Homo sapiens: one gene and its partner. The protein of the gene in region 1 interacts with the protein of each later gene in a pairwise test. Each region holds a gene or a part of one and is shown on either strand. Other genes may lie near its edges.

Region 1 (7,571 bases):
AGTGAGAATCCATCTTTAAAAAAAAAAAAAGTTGTCATCTTCAGAAAAGTTTTTAATGAATTAGAAAAGCATTTTTGAAAATTGTATTATTGATGAGGCCGATCCATTTTTTGGCATTCACATAGTTTTCATCAGTGGATGGGTGATATACTGAATAGATTGAGTCCATGTTTGAAGCGAGGTGGTGGAAATCTGTGAAGCAATCCTTGAAGCAAGATAGTAGAAAAGAAACCTCCTAATTTCTTTTTACCAACTGGTCTGGTTAGTCCTCAGACAGAGCCCATGTTCAAACAGATATTTGCTGGGCACCCTGCCATGTTTTCATACTTACTTACTTCAAACCTATTACAGTCAGATGACCCACCTGTTTCCAGTATTGGTTTTTTTCCCCTCAGTTCGGTTATTTTATGAGAGTGAAAATTTAACTTCATGGAAATTTCACTTTGCTTTGCTCTTTATAGTTCTCTAATGGCATCAGTTTTTACTCCAAGAGGGAAACCTGTTAGAACTTTGCTGCACTAACAACACACAGCTGACCTTTGGTGGGGTGATTGGTCACAAGCCTGTCTTTTGATGGGTTCTTTCACAAATAATCACTAACCTTCTTCCTCATAGCACCCCTTCTGTTGGGCTCTGGGGATAAAAGGATGAACAAAACTACAGAGTCCCAGCCTTTAGGAGTTCACAGTTCAACTGCAGAGGAGATAGACTCTAAACAAAAACAGAACTACATGACTTTTCTTTCTATGTGTGACTTCTCACCTTTCTTATTTGGGGCAGCCCAGTCGGCTTTATTCCATAACCTCAGGCCAAGGCCTCTCTAAAATGAGGACAGAAGGATATGCCACCTTCCAGTTAAATGTGCTCTAATTTTCCCTGCTAGATGAGCATACGTAAGTGCACTCAACACTTTCGCTCATGGGCAGAAGCTTGTCTGAGAGACTTTAGTCTTCATTATAAGTAATGTAAAACATGTAGTATTTCATGTCTGAGCATCAGATATACATTGATCATTACATACGAGAAGTAATTACACTAGTAAATGTGAACCTAGTAGCAGCCGCAACATCAGTAGCCACCGTTTTCTCCTTGTTTGGAGGCCAGGCATATGTTAGCAAAGATTAGAGTAACACTTGGAGTACAATTGGGAGCTATCTGGGGCAAAATAAAGGTGATCAGTCCCACCTTCAGGGCAGCCCCAACTGCCTGAAGTGCCTGTGAGAGGAGCCCACCCACAAGCCATGGCCTCTGAGTGTTGGTACCACAGCCCTGCCAACTGTGACCTTGTGTGCATGGGCCACGTAAGCACAGCTATGACAAGGCAGTGCCTGTAATTAGGGTGAAGGACTGTGTCAGTGAGTTGCAGTCACTGCATGGCTAGCCAGGAGAGAAGCCACATGTTATCTTTATTTTATAAACACACAGTCAGCATTTCTTAGAAATCAGTGTCCTTGACCACAGAATAGATTTAGGGAAAGAAAAAAAAAAATCGGTGTCCTGGCCGGGCGTGGTGGCTCATGCCTATACCCCAGCACTTTGGGAGGCTGAGGTAGGCGGATCACTTTTGGTCAGGAGTTCAAGACCAGCCTGGCCAACATGGTGAAACCCTAAAATACAAAAATTAGCTGGGGGTGGTGGCGCACACGTGTAATCCCAGCTATTCGGGAGGCTGAGGTGGGAGAATTACTTGAACCTGGGAGGCAGAGGTTGCAGTTAGCCAAGATTGCACCACTGCACTCCAGCCTGAGTGACAGAGCGAGACTCTGTCTCAAAAAAAAAAAAGCAGTGTCCTTTAACTGGGGTAATACCTAAAGTAATAAGTGATGCTTGGTTTTTTTTCCTTTTTCAATTCCTGTCTCCCTTAGCTTCTGGAATGTGGTGGAAATTTGTTTGATGCCATTTCCATTGCTGTAAAGGCTGCTCTCTTCAATACAAGGTAAGTCTTCCTAGAAACAGCTCTGCGAACCTGTGGAGAACCAGAGCAGACACTTGTAATGGAACACTGAGGAAATTTCTATTGTAGCTCATATGTGAAGATAACAGGGGGTTTTAACATTGAAAATGGTGACATCTAACGTTAAACTCCAGAAAAGATAGATTTCGTGAATTAAAACTACATATATACGTATATTCTGTATTTATTTTTTGTATTGTTATTTTTATAAATAGACACCTACCATTTAGAAAAATATTAGAAAACTACAGAGAAGCCAAGAAGAGTAGACACCACCTACAGGCCAACTATCCAAATACTATTACTGGGTGAACTCTATGGGGGCAAGGATTTTGCCTGTTTTGTACTTGCCTATATTCCTAGCACCATGAACAGTACCTGACACATAGTAAGTGCTTGCATATTGCTTGATTGTACACATGTGTGTTCTAAAAGCAGGGTAACAGGCTTCCCTTTGGTTTAAGAAGAGGAAATGGCTATTCCACATGGTTCAGCTTTCCAAACAGGTTGTGTAGAAGGGACAAGTTGCTATGCTTTTTTGGAGTTGACATTTATTCTGACTGATTGACCTTTCCCCCTTTTATGCTCCAAGTACTTTGAGGAAAATTTGCAGCATTTATGAGTAAATACGTGGGATAGGGTGTTCATCCTATGAGAGAGCCTACATTAAGGTAACAGAGGATCCTATTAAAAAACGAGGATTAGAAACTTCTAGGGATATAACCTAAGGACATAATTGAATAAATGAGCAAAGATGTTTATTCTAGGATGTTCATCACATCCTAGAATAAACATTACACTGCTTTGTAATGGTAAGAAACTGGAAACAACCTGAGTTTCACAATGGAGGGGATTGAAGTCCACACAGCAGCCTATTTAAAGGCATGTTAATATGGAAAATAGTTCACTAAATGCAGTCCCCTCATCCTGGTTTTTGTTTGTTGGTTTGTTGTATTTTACTTTGGTAGTTCTTATATGTAATGTGTCTGGAAATATGTACCCCCAAGTAATCACTGTAATTATTTTTCAGTGCTCATATTTTGGCCAACATAACATTTACCTGTTTTTTAGAGCTTTTCTATGATGAGTTTAGACTCCCTGTGTAATTTAGAGCAGACAAAAATTGCAGGCTGGAATATTTGCTGAGAATGAAAGCTGTAGAGTCCCCCACCCCTAGCTGTGCCACTAGGCTCCTTGTTGAGACTATTTGAAATGTGAGCCTGGCACTCTTGGCCACCGTGGGAGCTTGCGTGCCAGATCCCACAGCAGTAGCTGGTGCTCGGGCCCTGTTGGGGAAGGAAAGGAAGCTGTCATCTGATTTATCTTGAGCCTCAGAAATGACTCCCCATCTGCCAGCTGGTTCCTATAGGCACCCAGGCAAAAAGAGAGATTGGGAACCAGACAAGGCTGTTTAGCTGTGGGGGAGTTGCTGGCCAAACTGTATACCAGAAAGGTTAACCCAGCTGCTCAGGTAGGGGAGGACACCTGTCATGGGCACAGCCATAGTCTCATCCTCAGACCAAGAACAGCCCTGCAGGCAGCAAGGAATGGGGACTCTAAGGCATCAAGTCCCCCTGGTATGTGGAGAGACTATTGGCATATTCAGGGTCCTTTAGAAGGGTAAAGGCCACCTGAGGGTATTCTTTAGCCCTTCTGCCCAGGCTTGTTGTAGCCAAAGGGTTGGGAAATTGGGAGATACTGTGCGTGCGTGCGTGCGTGCGTGCGTGTGTGTGTGTATGTGTGTGTGTAAATGGTTGACAACTTGTTCAAATAGGATATTACTTAGTAGAACTTCCTCTGATGGGAAGGCTCCAAATGGGGAAGACCCTTACAGAACTCCTTGGCCCTTGTCAACATTCTCTGGCTGAAGCTCCCCTGATCTGATCTAGATGTTGCCTTGTGTATGGATGGCCAGCAGGGCTCAATCATGGGGGGTTTTGTTAGAGGAACTGGGAAAAGTACTAATGCTGTTTCCATTACAGTAGCTGGATGGACCACCTCTTCCTTCCTGGCTCCTCCAACCCAGCCTGGAGTGAATTGACTTTATAGGTTAAATGTGTTTTTCAGTACCCAGCTGAAGAAACAGAATGTTGCCAGCACCCCAGAAGCATCCCACACCTTCTGTACCCCCATGCAATTACACTCACTGATGATAACCAGCATCTTAAAAGAATAGATTACTTTTGTACTTGATATAAATGGTATCATATACTATGTTCTGTTTTGTGTCTGCCTCATTCACTAAGCATTGTGTTTTGAGAGATCTGTGTTGCTGCCTTAGTCATAGCTTGCTTTTTGCTGTATGGTGTTCCATTGTGTGACTTTGTCCAGTCTGCTGTTTATCCAGTCTACTGTCCAGTCTGCTGTTGTTTATCAGTCTACTGTTGATGGCCATCTGGTTCATTTCCAGTTTGAGGCTATTACAAATAGGGATGGGCATCATGAACATTTTGTGCATGTCTTTGGTGCACATATTTCTCTATTTCTGTTAGGGAGGAGTGTTCTGGGTTATAGGGTATGGCTATCTTTAGTTACGGTAGATGCTGCCAGTTTCACAAAGTGTTTTACCAGTTAACACTTCCACCAGCAGTGTATGTAAGAGTTCCGGGTTGTTTCACATTTTTGTCAACTCTTGCTTTTTTTTTTTGAGATGGAGTCTCACTCTGTCTCCCAGGCTGGACTGCAGTGGCGTGATCTCAGTTCACTGCAACCTCCACTTCCCAGGTTCAAGCGATTCTCTTACCTCAGCCTCCCAAGTAGCTGGGATTACAGGTGTGCACCACCACACCCAGCTAATTTTTGTATTTTTAGTAGAGATGGGGTTTCACCATCTTGGCCAGGCTGGTCTCGAACTCCTGACCTCAGGTGATCCTCCCGCCTTGGCCTCTGAAAGTACTGGGATTACAGGCATGAGCCACCATGCCTGGCGTTTTTTTTTTTTTGTTTTTTTTTTTAATAGTTATTTTGGTTGTGCCTTGGTATCACAGTGTAGTTTTAATTTGCATTTTTAATAGATATTTAAATTGAGCACCTTTTCTTGGTTTATTGGCTACTCAGACAGCCTCTTTTATGAAGACATCCAAATATATTCTACGTTTGAGTCTTTTGTCCATTTTTCTGTTGGGCTGTCTTTTTTTTGTTTAATAGGAATTCTTTATGTAATCTGTCAGGTAGTATTTTATCTCCCCAGATTATATTTTTAGTTTTTAAATGATGTCTTCTGATATACAGAAGTTCATGATGTTATAATTGAATATGTAACTTTTTTCTCTTTCTGTATCCTGTTCAAGAAATAGTTGTCTACTCCAAGGTCATGCAGATGTTTTTTTCTAAATGCTTTATTGTCTTGTCTTTTATTTTTTATATCTATGGTCTATTTGGTATGGCTTCGTGTGTGTGGTGTGAGGTAGGGATTGAGATTCTTTTTTTTCCATTGGGATATCTGATTGACCCAGCATCATTTTCTAAAAGATGCCTTTCCTCATTGCACTGCGGCGCCTCCTGTGTGCTTTTGACAGGGATGACAGGGATGAGGATGATAAAGAATAGGCATAGCGTGTCTTTCTCTTGTGAGACACAGGGATTCCAACTCCTATTCTCAATCTTAAAAAGAAGTTATTTTTCCTCCTCCAAGTGGGAATTTTACTAGTGCTTCTGCTTCCAGGATACCAAGGGTTCGAGTTTTGGAGGATGAAGAGGGGTCGAAGGACATTGAATTGTCAGATGACCCTTATGACTGCATACGACTAAGTGTGGAGAATGTCCCCTGCATTGTCACTCTGTGCAAGGTATAACTTGTATTTTATGGTTTTTGTCTTCCCTGTGGGTGTGGGTCTCCTCTAATCCCAACCTGCTGAGGTTACTTAATAAGTTAAGAAGTTGTAATACCACACACCATATAGAAGTAGCTTTTACCCAAATCCAATAATTTGGTTATACTAGAAACCACTACCACGAGTAGCTCTTTCTTTTCTTTTTAATTGGAAGATATGATGTGGTCCTGGGAGCCATGAGTGTGTTTGTAGTAATAGTAGCCAGAGTTTGTTAAGCTCCTTCCACATACCATGTGCTTCACTAAAGCACCATGTCTTTTAATTACCTCAACTCTATGGGGTCTAGGGTGGTTGAGTAGTGGCAGGGTGGCGAACACTGTCCCCCCTATGAAATGGGAGGTTGGAGCAGGTCTTGGGTATCATGAGTGGTTTTCACATAGAGGGCTGTGGAGCTGAACATCAGGCTGATGTGATATATAACTAATGCTGCCCCAGGCTGTGCAAAGAGGCCTGTATTGGCTATTGACTGGGATTGTAGCTAATTCCACTCAGGATTCATTATCTCAAAATAAAGCTAAACAGGTCAGGTTTAATTCCACTGAAATCACTTCATGAACAGGATGTGGTGAAGTGTTCAGACAACAGGATGGCAGGATGTTGGGTCTTGGCTTTTTTTTTTTTTTTTTTTTTTTTTTTTTGAGACAGTCTTGCTGCAACGCCCAGGCTGGAGTGCAATGGCGCGATCTCAGCTCACTGCAACCTCCGCCTCCCAGGTTCAAGCAATTCTTCTGCCTCAGCCTCCCAAATAGCTGGGATTACAGGCACGTGCCATCATGCCTGGCTAATTTTTGTATTTTTAGTAGAGACGGTGTTTCACCATGTTGGCCAGGCTGGTCTCAAACTCCTGACCTCGGGTGATCTGCCCACCTCAGCCTCCCAAAGTGCCGGGATTACAGGCATAAGCCACCGCACCTAGCCGGCTTGTTCTTTCTTGTTGTTTATTTGTTTTTTTTTTTTTTTTTTTTTTTGAGACAGAGTCTCGCTCTGTCGCCCAGGCCGGACTGCGGACTGCAGTGGTGCAATCTCGGCTCACTGTAAGCTCCGCTTCCTGGGTTCACGCCATTCTCCTGCCTCAGCCTCCCGAGTAGCTGGGACTACAGGCGCCCGCCACCGCGCCTGGCTAATTTTTTGTATTTTTAGTAGAGACGGGGTTTCACCTTGTTAGCCAGGATGGTCTCGATCTCCTGACCTCATGATCTGCCCGCCTCGGCCTCCCAAAGTGCTGGGATTACAGGCGTGAGCCACCGCGCCCGGCCTTGTTTTGAGACAGTGTTGCTCTGTTGCCCAGGCTGGAGTGCAGTAGCACAATCTAGGCTCACTGCAACCTCTGCTGCAACCCCCCCACCCGCCCCGGCTCAACCTCAAGCAACCCTTCCACCTCAGCCTCCCAAGTAGCTGGTACCACAGGCTCACACCACCATATCTGGCTATTTTTTTGTATTTTTGGTGGAGACAGGGTCTTGCCATGTTGCCTGGGCTGGTCTCAAACTCCTGAGCTCAAGCATTCCATTTTCCTCAGCTTCCCAAAGTGCTGGGAGGCATGAGCCGCTGCGCCCAGCCTTTGGCTTGTTCTTGAGTGTGTCCCTTAGCATGGACCCTCTTGATTCCCCCTTGCCATCAGTGAAACGTCCATGTGGCCTTGTGTGTGAATTTCTCCCTTGTGCCCCTCTGTTGGAAAGCCTTGGTGGCCTTTGTCTTGGTTGGTCTCTGAATTCTAGTTTTAAACCACCTTGCCCTGTTTTTCCATATCGTGTTTTTATTGTACCACCCACACAGTGGCCTGT
Region 2 (7,000 bases), on another chromosome or scaffold:
TTTTTTTTTTTTTTTTGTGACAGGATCTCATCCTGTCACCCAGGTGGGAGTGCAGTGGCACCATCCTGGCTCACTGCAACCTCTGCCTCCTGGGCTCAAGCAATCCCTCTGCCCCAGCCTTCTCTCGAGTAGCTGGGACTACAGGTGTATGCCACCATGCCCAGCCAATTTTTGTATGTTTTGTAGAGGTGGGGTTTCACCATGTCGCCCAGGCTTCACTTTGGTTTTTAACTTAATTACATAAATCTAGATTGGGCCTTGCTTTAGCAATTAATGAGAAAATACTAGGCGCTTTAGCTGACCTCAGAGCTAATTTGAGTCATGAAGATGATTTAGCAGCTAAGCGTGTTAGCATGAGCTCTGGGCTGCTTTGATACGGAAGTGCTGTTTGGTGTAAAGGAGGCTGTGGTCTCCCTGCACTCTTGTGTTGCAAGGGCGCATAATTACAGATGAAGCAAAAGGATAGCACATATTTATGAACCCAGTTGGAAGCAGCATTTTGTTGCATAATTTCAATGATTCCCTATAAAGATATGTAATACTAAATTTCAGGCCTGGCGTGGTGGCTCACACCTGTAATCCCAGCACTTTTGGAGGGCAAGGCGGGCATATCACCTGAGGTCAGGAGTTTGAGACCAGCCTGGCCAACATGGTGAAACCCTGTCTTTAATTAGCCGGGCATTGTGGCGCACGCTTGTAATCCCAGCTACTCGTGAGGCTGAGGCAGGAGAATCACTTGAATCCAGGAGGCGGAGGTTGCAGTGAGCAGAGATGGCACCACTGCACTCCAACCTGGGCAACAGAGCAAGACTCCACTCAAAAAAATAATACATACATACATAAAATAAATTTCAGGCATCAATTAAGACCTCATGTTCTAGAGCCAGACCATGGTGGGTTTAGATCCTTGGTCTGCTTGTATTCACTGCAAGCCTCTGAAAGACTGTCACAACCTCTGTAGGCCTCAGTTTCCTCCTCTGTAAGATGGTGAGAGTAATACCACCTCATAGGCTATGAGGACATGCTGAGAATTCACTGATCCAGCACATTGATATTGAAATGCTACTGTGTGCTGTTGCAGACACAACACCTTATACATAAGAGAGTGTATGAAAAATTAGCCTTAGCCATTGGTATTAATATCACTGTTACTGGCCGGGTGCGTGCGGTGGCTCACACCTGTAATCCCAGCACTTTGGGAAGCCAAGGCGGGTGGACCACTTGAGGTCAGGAGTTCAAGACCAGCCTGGCCAATATGGTGAAACCTGGTCTCTGCTAAAAATACAAAAATTAGCTGGGCATGGTGGCACGTGCCTGTAATCCCAGCTACTCAGGAGGCTGAGGCAGGAGAATCGCTTGAACACAGGAGGTGGAGGTTGCAGTGAGCAGAGATCACACCACTGTACTCCAGCCTGGGCAAAAGAGCGAGACTCTGTCTCCAGAAAAAAAAAAAAAATCACTGTTAACTGTTGCTCTCTTGCTTGCATCTTGATGTCACAGATGATCATGGTCATTAGTGATCGTTTTTTGTCTGTCCCTGCAGGAACCTAGTGCTGAAGACAGTAAAAAGGGTCCATTGACAGTTGCACAGAAAAAAGCCCAGAACATCATGGAGTCCTTTGAAAATCCATTTAGGATGGTGAGTAGTAGTTTTGTCAGGGCTGACAGGATATGCAGAGATGCCTACAGCTGTACATGCTTTTACCTGGGAAGGAAGCCTCTGAAGCCAGTGTGTCGGCTGCCCTGGTGTCCTGGCAAAGACGCTGACAAGGCACCAGCAACCCCCCATCTGAGCGCTTCTGCCCCGTGGCTCTAGATTCCGTTCCCGGCAGCGTTTCACACAGCCATTTCCTTCCTCCAGTTTCTGCCCTCACTGGGACACCGTGCTCCCGTCTCTCAGGCAGCGAAGTTCGATCCATCAACCAAAATCTATGAAGTAAGTGGACTTGTCACCTGTTCTAAAAGAGACTTTTTTTTTTTTTTTTTTTTTTTGAGATGGAGTCTCGCTTTGTCACCCAGGCTGGAGTGCAGAGGCACAATCTTGACTCACTGCAACCTCCACCTCCCAGGTTCAAGCAGTTCTGCCTCAGCCTCCCAAGTAGCTGGGATTACAGGCACCTGCTGTCATGCCCGGCTAATTTTTGTAGAGATGGGGTTTCACCATGTTGACCAGGCTGGTCTCGAACTCCTGACCTCAGGTGATCCACCCGCCTTGGCCTCCCAAAGTGCTGGGACTACAGACGTGAGCTACTGCGCCTGGCCCTAAAAGAGACTTTCTAAGAAAAGGGGATTTCTTAATTATTCATACCAGGTTTCTGTTTTAGACAAGCCTATCTCATCTGTGAATCCCGTGAAAATGAATGCAAAAGCCCTTTATTTTCTAGCATTGTTTCTAGGGAAAGGGTCCAGAACTTCAGTGAGATTCTTAAAAGCACTTGGGCTGGGCATGGTGGCTCACGCCTGTAATCCCAGCACTTTGAGAGGCCGAGGCGGGCGGATCATGAGGTCAGGAGATCGAAACCATCCTGGCTAACATGGTGAAACCCCGTCTCTACTAAAAATACAAAAAATTAGCCAGGCGTCGTGGCAGGCGCCTGTAGTCCCAGCTACTCGGGGGGCTGAGGCAGGAGAATCGCTTGAACCTGGGGGGCGGAGCTTGCAGTGAGCCGAGGTTGCGCCACTGCGCTCCAACCTGCGCGACAGAGCGAACTCTAGCCAAAAAAGAAAAAGAAAAGCACTTGGAAACTTTGTAAGAAACAAATCTTCATTTGCGGTTTTTAAATTGAGGTTTAATCTATATGTAGTAAAGTACACAAATATTAAATATACAGCTTGATGCATTTTTATAGATGTCTGTTACTTTAAGGCTCTTAAAGGTGACAGCTTTAATTTTAAAACACTCTATCTTACTTATCTGGCTTGTTTTTACCAGCATTATGAGTAAGAATGAGAGCACACCTCCCCTAGACCCTCTTGAGATGTTCCCCAGAGCCAGAACGTGAACTGTTGTTCGCAGCCTCCTTCCTCCCTTTAGGAAGCGTCTGCTCTGATGACATGGGCGACTGGCTTCCTCTGTGTGGCAGCAGAGCTCTTTTGTTAGGCAAAACCGAGAGGTCCCCCAGCCCCGTTCCTGTCCCTGAGTTAGCTTGCTATTTTTGGAAATGGGGAATCAGGTGGGGCTTCTGCCTTCTCTCCTCTTTTCCCCCCACGGGTTATGTCACACTGAACAACTGCACGTCCTGTGTGTTATGCCCAGTGTCACCTCCATGTGTTGTAACGCCATAGGTCCGTGGGGTGTCATAAAGAAACACAGCAGACTTGCGGAAGCCCAGCCTTGAGTCTGCTTCTGTCATTTACTGACCATGTCCCTTGGACAAGTTATTTACTCTCCCGGAGTCTGTTTGCTCATCTCTAAAGAGAGGGTGATGACAGTACCTTTTTCCCAGGGTTACAGAGGGATTGAATGAGATGATGGATGGCCCAGTGCCTGGAGGACAGTAGCACTTTGTCCTTAATAGGGATTTTAGCAATAAAGCCAGCATGAAATTTATTTTTCATGCCCTTAGATTTGAAAATTTATGACTTAGAATGTGTGTACTTCTTAGGTTAACCTGCCCTTCGTCACCTCATGAAAAGTAAGACAGACTTAGGTGGCTGACTTTGGAGGGTTTTTTTTGTTATATTTGCTTTCATTATAGATCAGCAACCGCTGGAAGCTGGCCCAGGTACAAGTACAAAAAGACTCTAAAGAAGCTGTCAAGAAGAAGGCAGCTGAGCAAACAGGTAACACTCACTTCCTTGCAACTCAGTCGGCTGTTAAAGAATGGCTGTTGCACACCCGCTGTTTCAGCCAAGTGCCAGATACGGCGATGAATGAAGCCCCTGTGGGGCTTCCCTTCTGCTGAGGGATGGTGGGCAATCAGTATCTATCCTGGCAGATGGCAGCAGGTGCTGTGCAGAGAGATTGGTGGGGAGTGCTGGAGGTGCTGTAGCTGTCTCGTTGGTGGTTGGAGAAGGCAGTCTAATGAATGCGACATTGACGAGACCTGCAGTGACCTAGAGAAGAGTTCTGGAGCCACAGCACAGCGAGCCCAGAGGCCCTGGGGCTAGTTCACTGGGCATGCTGAGCAGCAGCAAGTGGGCCTGCATGAGCAGAGCGGGTAGAGAAGAGCAGGAGATGGGGAAGGAGCCAGCAGAGGCCCACGGGATGACGCTGCCTTTTACTCTGAGTTCAGAAGCCAGGAGGGTGCTGAGCAGACGGGGGGAAGTGACTGACATGTGGCACTCTGGCTGCTGTGTCAACAGTAGACTATAGAGGACAGGATGGGAGTCCAGGAAGGGATAGGAGACATGGCAGTGGCTCAGGCGAGAGGGGATGGTGGCTTTGAGACCAGCGTGGGAGCAGAGGAGGTGGTGAGAAGCTGTCAGAGCCTTGATCTGTCCCATAGCAAAGCTGACAGCATTTGATGATGAGGTGGATGTGGCATGTGAGAAAAGGGAAGGGAACCTTGGATGAAGGTTTTGTCCTGAGCAGCTGGAAAGCTGGAGTTGCTGGCAGCCAAAGTAGCTGGTTTGAGCAGGTTTGTCCACGATGGTGATGGTGACGATCCTGTTAAACGCCCTCAGGTCCACAGGCCACTGAGCATTTAGGTTCACAGAAGAGGAGCAGGCAGGGCTGGGGAGGATCAGCTCACGTGTAGCTGAAGGTGGGCAGAGCACCTGAGCCTGAGCTCTGAGGCAGCCTGTCCTGCAGAGATGGGGGACCGGGGACCTGAGAGGGAGGAGGAATCAGCCGTGACAACCCCTGTGGCTAGGCCAAGTCGGAGGGGGATGGAGATGGAGGGGAGGGTGGTTGCTGGATTCACCAACTCCAGAGACAAGTTCTCTCCCTTGCAGCTGCCCGGGAACAGGCAAAGGAGGCGTGCAAAGCTGCAGCAGAACAGGCCATCTCCGTCCGACAGCAGGTCGTGGTATGTGCCAGCTTTTCTCCTTTTTCCTTTGAAAAACGATGCCCCTGCTTGTGGTCAGGATCTTCCTTGGATATCTTAGGGGGCTTGCCCTGTGCTTTATATTAAGTCCTGACTTCTTTCCGGTTCACCTTAGCTTGGCTATTAGTGTCTACCTCATTTCCGAAACCTCCACAAGATTGATATTGTAATTCCTCTTAACCTTCTTCCACTGTGTTTATGGTAAATATGCCAGACCACTCAACTGTAGTAGTAGAAAAGGTATTGAGGTTACAGTGCTGAAGCTTGTTGTGTGTCCTGCTGTGTCCTACAAAAATGTTGCATTCTAGAGAATGAAACCCCAGAGCACTCTGGAACTCTTTTTTTTTTTTTTTTTTTTTTGAAGTAGTGTCTACCTCTGTTGCACAGGCTGGAGTGCAGTGGCACAGTTGCAGCTCACTACAGCCTCAAACTCTTGGGCTCAAACGATCCTCCCTCCTCAACCACCCAAGTAGCTAGACCACAGGCACACACCACCATTCCCAGCTATTTTTTGTTATTGTTTTTGGTGGAGACGGGGTCTCACTATATTGCCCAGGCTATCACTCGAATTCTTAACCCCTGCCCCCTGCCTTTCCTTTTTTTTTTTTTTTTTTTTAATTTCCTTTTAAAAAAAAAATAGTGACATGGTCTTACTCTTACCCTGATGCCCAGGCTGGAGTACAGTGGTGCAATTATAGCTCATTGCAGCCTTGTACTCCTGGGTTCAAGTGATCCTCCCACCTCAGCCTCCCAAGTAGCTAGGACTACAAGCACGCACCACCATGCCCAGCTACATTTGTTTCTTTTTTTTTGTAGAGATAGGGGTCTTGCTATGTTGCCCAGGCTGGTCTCAGACTGCCTAAAGCAGTCCTCCCACCTAGGCCGCCCAAAGCACTGGAATTATAGGCATGAGCCACTGCACCTGGCCTGCTTGCCTTTCTTAAATGACCTCATGTCATTGTCCAGTGAGGAATTTGTTTCAGCTGACCCTGAGTGTTGGTCCCGAAGTTCCAGCCACAGCTCCTCTCCCCACCACTGACTGTTCTTCTTACCACTTAGGCAGCTGGGTCCCAGCTATTGCTGAGGCCGGTGGAGTTCCCTGTTCCCATGTGCCTCCCTGTTCCTCCCCCACATCTGTTCCTGATCTACAGCTAGAAAATGCTGCAAAGAAGAGAGAGCGAGCAACAAGCGACCCAAGGACCACAGAACAGAAACAAGAGAAGAAACGACTCAAAATTTCCAAGAAGCCAAAGGACCCAGAGCCACCAGAAAAAGAGTTTACGCCTTACGACTACAGCCAGTCAGACTTCAAGGCTTTTGCTGGTGAGGAAGTAATGGGGCCCCATACAGGGACATCTGTGCGCGTCAGAGGGGAGGAAGCCATAAAGAGACCACAATATAGGGGCCAAGTGAGTCCTGCACAAGGCATGGTGCTAGCCAGGAATTGTTGGAGTAGTCCAGAGAGGCCGTGGCAATGTGGACAGTCGCCTGCAGCCTCATTACCACCTCCTCCATGGGAGCTCAACTCATGGTGGCCTCCATGGTGGGTTAGCAAGATCACCTGTCACTTCCACTGTGACCAGGGCGCCATCCTTCCTCACTATAACTTGTGCCCATAAACCCTCTCTCTCTCTCTCACACACACACACACACAGAATTTTGTTTGTTGAAAAATCTCAAAGCCTATGACATGAACCCCTATGGCTGCTTGGGCTGTGAGAGTCCGTCTGCTTTGAAGGGGCTACAGATGGCATTCTCGACTCTAGCAGCCTTCGGAGCAACATGCTCCTTTGGAAAAGAGAAAGCAGAGGCCAGTCCACACAATGGCCCTTTATACAGGAGTGTCGCCTCAGAGCCCGAGTTCCTTATGGCATCACCCAGCACAGAGATCAGAATGGATTTCCTTATGTGCGGGGGCCACTGCTGTAGCCACCTGCCCCTAAGGTCCTGGGACTAGAGCTGAGAGAAATGGGCCTGGTTTTCAGACTGCCCACAGGGACCAGGATCGCTAT

Evidence for each region.
Region 2: the proteins of EXOSC7 (region 1) and EXOSC10 interact in binary tests that used the Homo sapiens proteins (3 or more experiments, as listed by UniProt).

What each region holds. Positions count from the first base shown.
Region 1 is NC_000003.12:44,999,673-45,007,243, forward strand, and holds part of EXOSC7 (exosome complex component RRP42), read left to right. Parts: intron 1-1,865; coding exon 1,866-1,936; intron 1,937-5,618; coding exon 5,619-5,742; intron 5,743-7,571. UniProt on the Homo sapiens protein: Non-catalytic component of the RNA exosome complex which has 3'->5' exoribonuclease activity and participates in a multitude of cellular RNA processing and degradation events.
Region 2 is NC_000001.11:11,068,870-11,075,869, reverse strand, and holds part of EXOSC10 (exosome complex component 10), read left to right. Parts: intron 1-1,543; coding exon 1,544-1,639; intron 1,640-1,861; coding exon 1,862-1,936; intron 1,937-3,698; coding exon 3,699-3,783; intron 3,784-4,881; coding exon of another isoform or gene 4,882-4,896; coding exon 4,897-4,970; intron 4,971-6,139; coding exon 6,140-6,311; intron 6,312-7,000. UniProt on the Homo sapiens protein: Catalytic component of the RNA exosome complex which has 3'->5' exoribonuclease activity and participates in a multitude of cellular RNA processing and degradation events.